2 linked regions of the Homo sapiens genome follow. The protein of the gene in region 1 purifies or fractionates together with the protein of each later gene. This does not show direct contact. Each region holds a gene or a part of one and is shown on either strand. Other genes may lie near its edges.

Region 1 (3,500 bases):
AAAAAAAAAATCAGGATAAACCGTTAACACCATATGTGGAGGAGCAAGGGATACGACCAGTGACCAGGACCAACCAGGCCAGGGTGCAGGCGTCTGTGAAGAGGCCATCTCCACGCTGGAGACACCTGCCTCCCGGAGGGGACTGAGGCCTTACCCCCTCCTCAGCAACACCTGAGCCAGAACCTGCTCTATTCCCTTTTTGGAGCTGAGGAAACTGAAGCACACAGACACCCGGCTGGGCCCCATACTCCACTGCTGCTCCTTCGGACACGCTGGCCTCAGGATGTGTCCCAGCTTGCGGCGTCTCACACCTCTGTCCCAGTCATCTGAGGACCCCCACGGGCACCCACCTGCGAGGTGAGGAAGCGCTTGAGTGCATTCCCTGGCTGCAGGTCCATGCCTCGCACCACGGCCCCCACAATGTAGGGCCGCACATCCCGGACCTCGGGGCTCACTCTGACTGTCAGAGGTACGGGGTTTTCAGAGACGTGCAGGACCCTGAGCAGCAGCCGGCCGGCATCTCCCACGTCCTGCTCCTCCCCATCACCACCTTCCCGCCTCTGCTTCCTCTCCCTCCTCTTCCTCCGGCTCTCTTCCTTCTCCGAGCCCTCGGCACGGCCCTTGCCCTTCCCGCCACCACGGCCTCCGACGCGCAGGTACTCCAGGATGGATCTGGTCTGGCAGCCGCTGACCATCTTCTCCAGGCGCTTGTCCCTCAGCTTGTTCCCACGGAAATTGATCTCCTTGAGCTTGGGGCAGTCCGCAAGCTCTGCAGGGATCTCGCTCAGCTGGTTGTTCGAGAGGTCCAACGTCTGCAAAGAGAAACATGGACGCGTCAGACGCCCGGACTCTGGGAAGAGAGTCCAAGGTCATGCTCGAGAGGCAGGGAGACCACTCATCACTCACAAGAGCCACCACTGGCCTGTCTGTGGGGACGCGTCCCTGGGGAGCCACAAGTCATTCACCTTTGAGTCACTTCCCCAGCTCTGCACCCCACATCAAAGGCACTATCCGAGGAGCCTCTCCGAGGAGAAGGCGTCAGCCACGGTTAACAGTGATCTCTGCAAAAGCTTCTGACTCAAACATGTCACCCTCTTTAACAACCACAGCAGCCCTGCAGCTCAATCATCACGTTAGAGAACAGAAAGGTGACAAGAGACAGGGGATGTCTGGGTGTGAAACGTGACCTCATGTCGGGACCTAGCCAGGACTGCTCAGGTGAGAAGCAGGTTCCCCAAAGTGGTGTTATTTTTTTTAATTAAATGAGCTAAAAAAAAAATACAGCAAAATCTCTAAGAGCATTCTTCTTCATAATGAAGTGCAAAGTTGCCCGCAGTGACACACAGAGTGCTCTCAGGGTTCACGCAGGAAGGAAAGGGGAAAGCCGACTTCAACGGCGATGGGTTCTCAGCCTTCGTCTGACCCAGGACAGGTGCATCGGGCCCACCACCGTGTGCCACAAAGATGCCCAGGAAGCCCCGTGGCCCACGGGAAAGCGTTTTCTATGACCGTGACTGATCAGACTTTGGCAAAACGTGCAGGTGACCTCACTGAAAGGATGGAAGGGGTACAGTGGCACCTGATGCACTCTTAGGATGTCTTTCCCAGGGTCTGGGCAGCGCAGGGAACGTGCGTGTGAGGGCAGCCACTTCCATGACGTGAGGCGGCCGCTGCAGGTTCAGGCAAAAGGGGCCCATCCGCCTCCACTCTGCTCTTTCCTGGCTTGGTACCCAGGCCCCACAGCCTTGCCTGGGTGGTGGGGCAGGCACTGCGAGCAAACCCTTCTGTCCCAGCTTCCTCTAGGGCTGGAGGAAGACCCTGCTCAGGATGCAAAGCCTGACCCTCGGGGATCTCTGGCAGCCTCGGTGCCGGCTCTGCCCCCAGAGAGGAGGCAACAGCATGTGGGCCCCCTGGAAGCCAGCACTCGCCCTTGGTCAGTGTGGCTGGTGAGTCCTAGTTACACTGGGTGTGGAGGAGACAGGTAGGGCTGGACTTGATAGACTCTGAACAGAGTTGGGGATGGGCTGATTACTCAGAGGACACCTCCTGCTTCGCCTGGAATGGATGGCAGGGGTGATGGAATTTCTCAAGCCCCAAGTTGTGAAGGAAATGAAAAAAGGAACCTGCTGGAATCCTCCGGCTCAAGCAATCAAGCTGCTCAGACACGGGTAAGGGCAGCATGGCTCAGAAATGGGATGGCGCTCAGAAGCGGGAAGGGTGGCACGGCTCAGACATGGGAGGGTGCACTGGATGAGTTCCCTCAGGGAGAACAGAGACCCAGGGAGGAAGCGACAACTTAACAGTCAAGCAGGAACAGCATGTGTAAAAGAAATAAAAGGGCTCGCGTGCCCTCTGGGAGAGAATGGGGCAGTCTAAGCAGCAGTGACGCCTGCTGGGGAAGAACACAAGGCAGGGGCTGAGACCAAGCCCAGCTGCTGGGCACTACCTGAGCCACGCGTCCATCGGATCTAACAGAACTGCCACAATTCTGTGCTTCTCAGCACAGGGTGGGCTGGGCTGGGATAGACTTGTTGGACTGGTGGCTCCAGCCCAGACCTCCCTTCCGGCCCCACATGGGACGAGAGCCAATCTACTCCTGGAATCCAGGTGGCCTCACAAAGTACCAGGAGCCGTATCACCAATGCTGTCGCCAGCCTGCAGCACCAGGAACAGTGCGGCCGTGAGCTCAGCCTTCTAGAGCTCCTCACCTCCCTGTCAGAGCCCTGGCTCCAGCGTTAGAACCAGCCTGGGCCACCAGCCCAGGGCACAGCCTGCCTGGCAGAGGCCAAGGGAAGCTCTGAGGTTGGAAGCTCGGGGGCACAGGCATCTGAGGTTCTGCTCTGTGGGTTTCTGCGCTGCCCTAAGGGGCTTTGGTCAAAAAGCTTGAGAGTTCCCCTCAAGTGGAACCTCCTTTCTGCCTGCAAACACGCAGTGCGGCGTCTCCCTCCGCTGACAAAGAGCAAGTTCCTTCAGACCCAGGAGCAGCAGCAGAGGCGAAGGAGGCGGGCGGGGCCCCACCGGGGCGCCCAGAGCAGCCACAGCCAGTTCAGCCTGCAGCCTGCAGTGAGTCCCCGAAAGGATGATGGCGGGCACTCGGAGAAGGGTCTTCCTTCCAGGCAAAGACTGTCAGAGAAAGGGCATCTGAGCAGCTCAGGACCTGCCTGGAGGCTCTGTGGGGAGTCAGGGGACAGGAAGGGAAGCGGGGGAAGGAGAGCAAGAGGGAGGGCAAGAGAGTCACCATCTGGGTGGGGCGCAAAGCCGCACATGTTGGGGAGTCCTTGTCAGAAATGCAAGGCCCTGCTGACGAGGTCGCACGCTGGCCCCTCAGGCCAGCACTGGGCACCCAGTGGCGGCCTCAGCAGGAAATGAAGCCAGAGATTTCACACATGAAGGGTGGATGAGGGTGGCGTCAGTTTTCACTTGTGTGAGGGAGCAAGCAGGCGCGCCCGCAAGGATGTGAGGTGCACACTGGCTTTGGGGAGGATGAGTTACACAGGGGG
Region 2 (3,500 bases), on another chromosome or scaffold:
CATCTCCAGCAAGGTCTGGAACTCTGCCCTAGGGACCCTCTTCCTTGTACATTCTAACTCAGCTGATTCCTGTATCTATTTCTATATTTCTTAGAGATCTCTTTACTTCTTACTAGCCAATTCCTTGTTACTCGAATCCCCAGTTATAGTTTATAACCTATTAAATGTTCTCTGTTTAAAGTACTATGTAGTTTCTTTTTTCTTTTTTTTTTTTTTTTTTTTGAGACAGAGTCTCACTCTGGTCGCCCAGGCTGGAGTGCAGTGGTGCGATCTCGGCTTACTGCAACCTCCACCTCCCAGGTTCAAGCGATTCTCCTGCCCCAGCCTCCCAAGTAGCTGGGATTACAGGCGTCTGCCACCACGCCTGGCTAATTTTTGTATTTTTAGTAGAGACGGGGTTTCACCATATTGGCCAGGCTGGTCTTGAACTCCTGACCTCAGGCAATCCACCCACCTCAGCCTCCCAAAGTGCTGGGATTACAGGCGTGAGCCACCCGCCCGGCTGTTACTATGTAGTTTCTATGGCCTAGCTGAATTTAGTTTATATCGGGTAACAGTAGCAAAACATCAGCACAAAATAAATAGGCTCCAGCATCTGTAGAAACAACCCACCCTAAAAGATGGTTAGTAAAAGTGTAGGTGAGAGTGTTCACTGAAGGTGACCAGAGGGCATCTTCAGGAGGCTGAGGTGGGTGGATCATGAGGTCAAGAGTTCGAGACCAACCTGGCCAACATGGTGATACCCCGTCTCTACTAAAAATACAAAAATTAGCCAGCATGGTGGCGCATGCCTGTAGTCCCAGCTACTCGGGAGGCCGAGGCAGGAGAACTGCTTGAACCCAGGAGACGGAGGCTGCAGCAAGCTGAGATCATGCCACTGCACTCCGGCCTGGGCAACAGAGTGAGACTCTGTCTCAAAAAAAAAAAAAATTGTATTTCAATCACTCTTTTGCTATACTGTTTCCAACCAGAAATGATGCACTTATTGGGAGGAAACTGGGAAACCAAGATAGAAATCAGATCTTGGATGGGTCATATTTTAGATAAGAGGCATTACAGTTTAAGACTCAGAAGGAACCAGACATGGTGGCTCACACCTGTAATCCCAGCACTTTGGGTTGCCAAGGTGGGAGGAGTACATGAGCCCAAGAGTTTGAGACCGCCTAGACAACATAGTGAAACTTCATCTCTATTAAAAAAAAAAAAAAAAAAACTGTCTCAATATTAATAATGGTTGTATCTATCTGGTAAATTGGAGTGGCTAGTTTACCATTTTTCTACATATTTTTCTTTCCTTTTTTTTTCTTTTTTTTAGAGACAGGGTCTCACTCTGGCACCCAGGCTGGAGCACAGTGGTGTCATCATAGCTCACTGCAGCCTTAAGCTCCTAGGTTCAAGCAATCTTCCCACCTCATCCTCCCCAGTAGCTGGGACTACAGGTGCACACCACCACACCTAGCTTTTTTCTCTTATTTTTATTTGTATTTTTTGCTTTTTGTTTTTGAGACATTGTCTCACTCTGTTGCCCAAGCTGGAGTACAGTGGTGCAATCTTGGCTCACTGCAACTTCTGCCTCCCAGGTTCAAGCGATTCTCTTGCCTCAGCCTCTTAAGTAGCTGGGATTACAGATGTGCGACACCATGCCCAGCTAATTTTTGTCTTTTTAGTAGAGACAGGGTTTCACCATGTTGGCCAGGCTGGTCTCGAACTACTGACCTCAAGTGTTCTGCCCACCTTGGCCTCCCAAAGTGCTGGGATTATAGGCGTGAGACACTCAGACCAGCCCCCATTTTTTTCTACATATTTTTCTAGCCTTCTGTAGTAAATATTATATAAGTTTATTTCATAGTGGGGAAGAGGGGAAAAAAGTATATACTGGGGGTTTTTTGAGGCAAGGTCTTGTTCTATTGCCCATGCTAGAATGGTGGCATACTCACGGTTCAGTGCATCCTTGACCTCCCAGGCTCAAGCAATCCTCCTGCCTCGGCCTTCCTAGCAGCTGAGACCAGAGGCATGTGCCACCACGCCTGGCTAACTATTTTTATTTTTAGTAGAGACAATGTCTTGCTAGGTTGCCCAGGCTGGTCTCAAACTCCTGGGCTCAAGTGATCCTACCACCTCAGCCTCCCAAAGTGGTAGGATTACAGATGAGAGCCACCACTTTTAGCCAAACTATATACTCTTAACAAAAAAGAAAGAAAGAAAAAAAAGCATATACTTTTTTTTTTTTTTTTTTTTTCCTGTGAGACTGAGTCTCGCTGTGTCGCCCAGGCTGGAGTGCAATGGTGTGATCTTAGCTCACCACAACCTCCGCCTCCCAGGTTCAAGCGATTCTCCTACCTCAGCCTCCCAAGTAGCTGCGATTACAGGTGCATGCCACTGCACCCAGCTAATTTTTTGTATTTTTAGTAGAGACGGGGTTTCACCATGCTGGCCAGGCTGGTCTTAAACTCCTGACCTCAGGTGATCCGCCCGCCTCCGCCTCCCAAAGTGCTGGGATTACAGGCATGAGACACTGTGCAAGGCCGAAAGTATATACTCTTAAAGCTTCAATGGATTTGTAGGTTGTAGATGTTCCATATAAAAAATGGCTGGACACAGAACAATGCGAATGTAGTTAACATTAATTAACTACACACTTAATAGGTAAGATGATAAACTGTTATGTTTTTTAATACAATTTTTTAAAACAAATTTATTTTTATTTATTTTTTTTAACAACAGGGTCTCAGTCACCCAGGCCAGAGTGTAGTGGCGGCATTCTAGCTTATTGCAGCCTCAAACTCTTGAGCTCAAGTGATCCTCCTGCTTCAGCCTCCCAAGTAGCTGGGACTGCGGGTATGTGCCACCATACCTAGATAATTTTCTCTTTTTTTTTTTGCTTTTTTTTTTTTTTTTTTGAGACAGAGTCTCTCCCTCTGTTGCCCAGGCTGGAGTATAGTGGCACAATCTCGGCTCACTGCAACCTCCAGCTCCCAGGTTCAAGCAATTATCCTGCCTCAGCCTCCCTAGTAGCTGGGATTATAGGCAACCGCCACACACCCAGCTAATTTTATATTTTTAGTAGAGACAGGGTTTCACCATGTTGGCCAGGCTAGTCTCGAACTCCTGACCTCAAGTGATCTGCCCGCCTCGGCCTCCCAAAGTGCTGCGATTACAGGCGTGAGCCACCATGCTTGGCCTAAGCCAAATGTAATGTTTACAGCAAAAAGTTTACAGATTTCCTATATCACTCTTTATAACACTACCGACCCAATTGTTCTGACCAAAGTAAACTTGTGCAACAATATCTGCTTTGCTTTATGCTGTGGTTTCATGCCACTTACCAGTTTATGCAGATTAATTTTAAAATTCTGTTTTCTTCCTTCCCCTCCTTCCAAGACAGGCCTTATTTACAAATATGATCAAACTCTCTAAACCTGATCATTGATAAAATGTAAAATAAAACCAGATTCAAGAAAATCCCCTGAAGAAATCTACTCCTCATTACCCTTCAGATA

Evidence for each region. Proteins that work in one complex are often made in the same cells at the same time.
Region 2: the proteins of LRRC47 (region 1) and ARHGAP19 fractionate together in Homo sapiens (co-fractionation; one large-scale study listed by BioGRID). This does not show direct contact.

Annotation. Positions count from the first base shown.
Region 1 is NC_000001.11:3,786,499-3,789,998, forward strand, and holds part of LRRC47 (leucine-rich repeat-containing protein 47), read right to left. Parts: intron 813-3,500; coding exon 351-812; intron 1-350.
Region 2 is NC_000010.11:97,282,638-97,286,137, forward strand, and holds part of ARHGAP19 (rho GTPase-activating protein 19), read right to left. Parts: intron 1-3,500. UniProt on the Homo sapiens protein: GTPase activator for the Rho-type GTPases by converting them to an inactive GDP-bound state.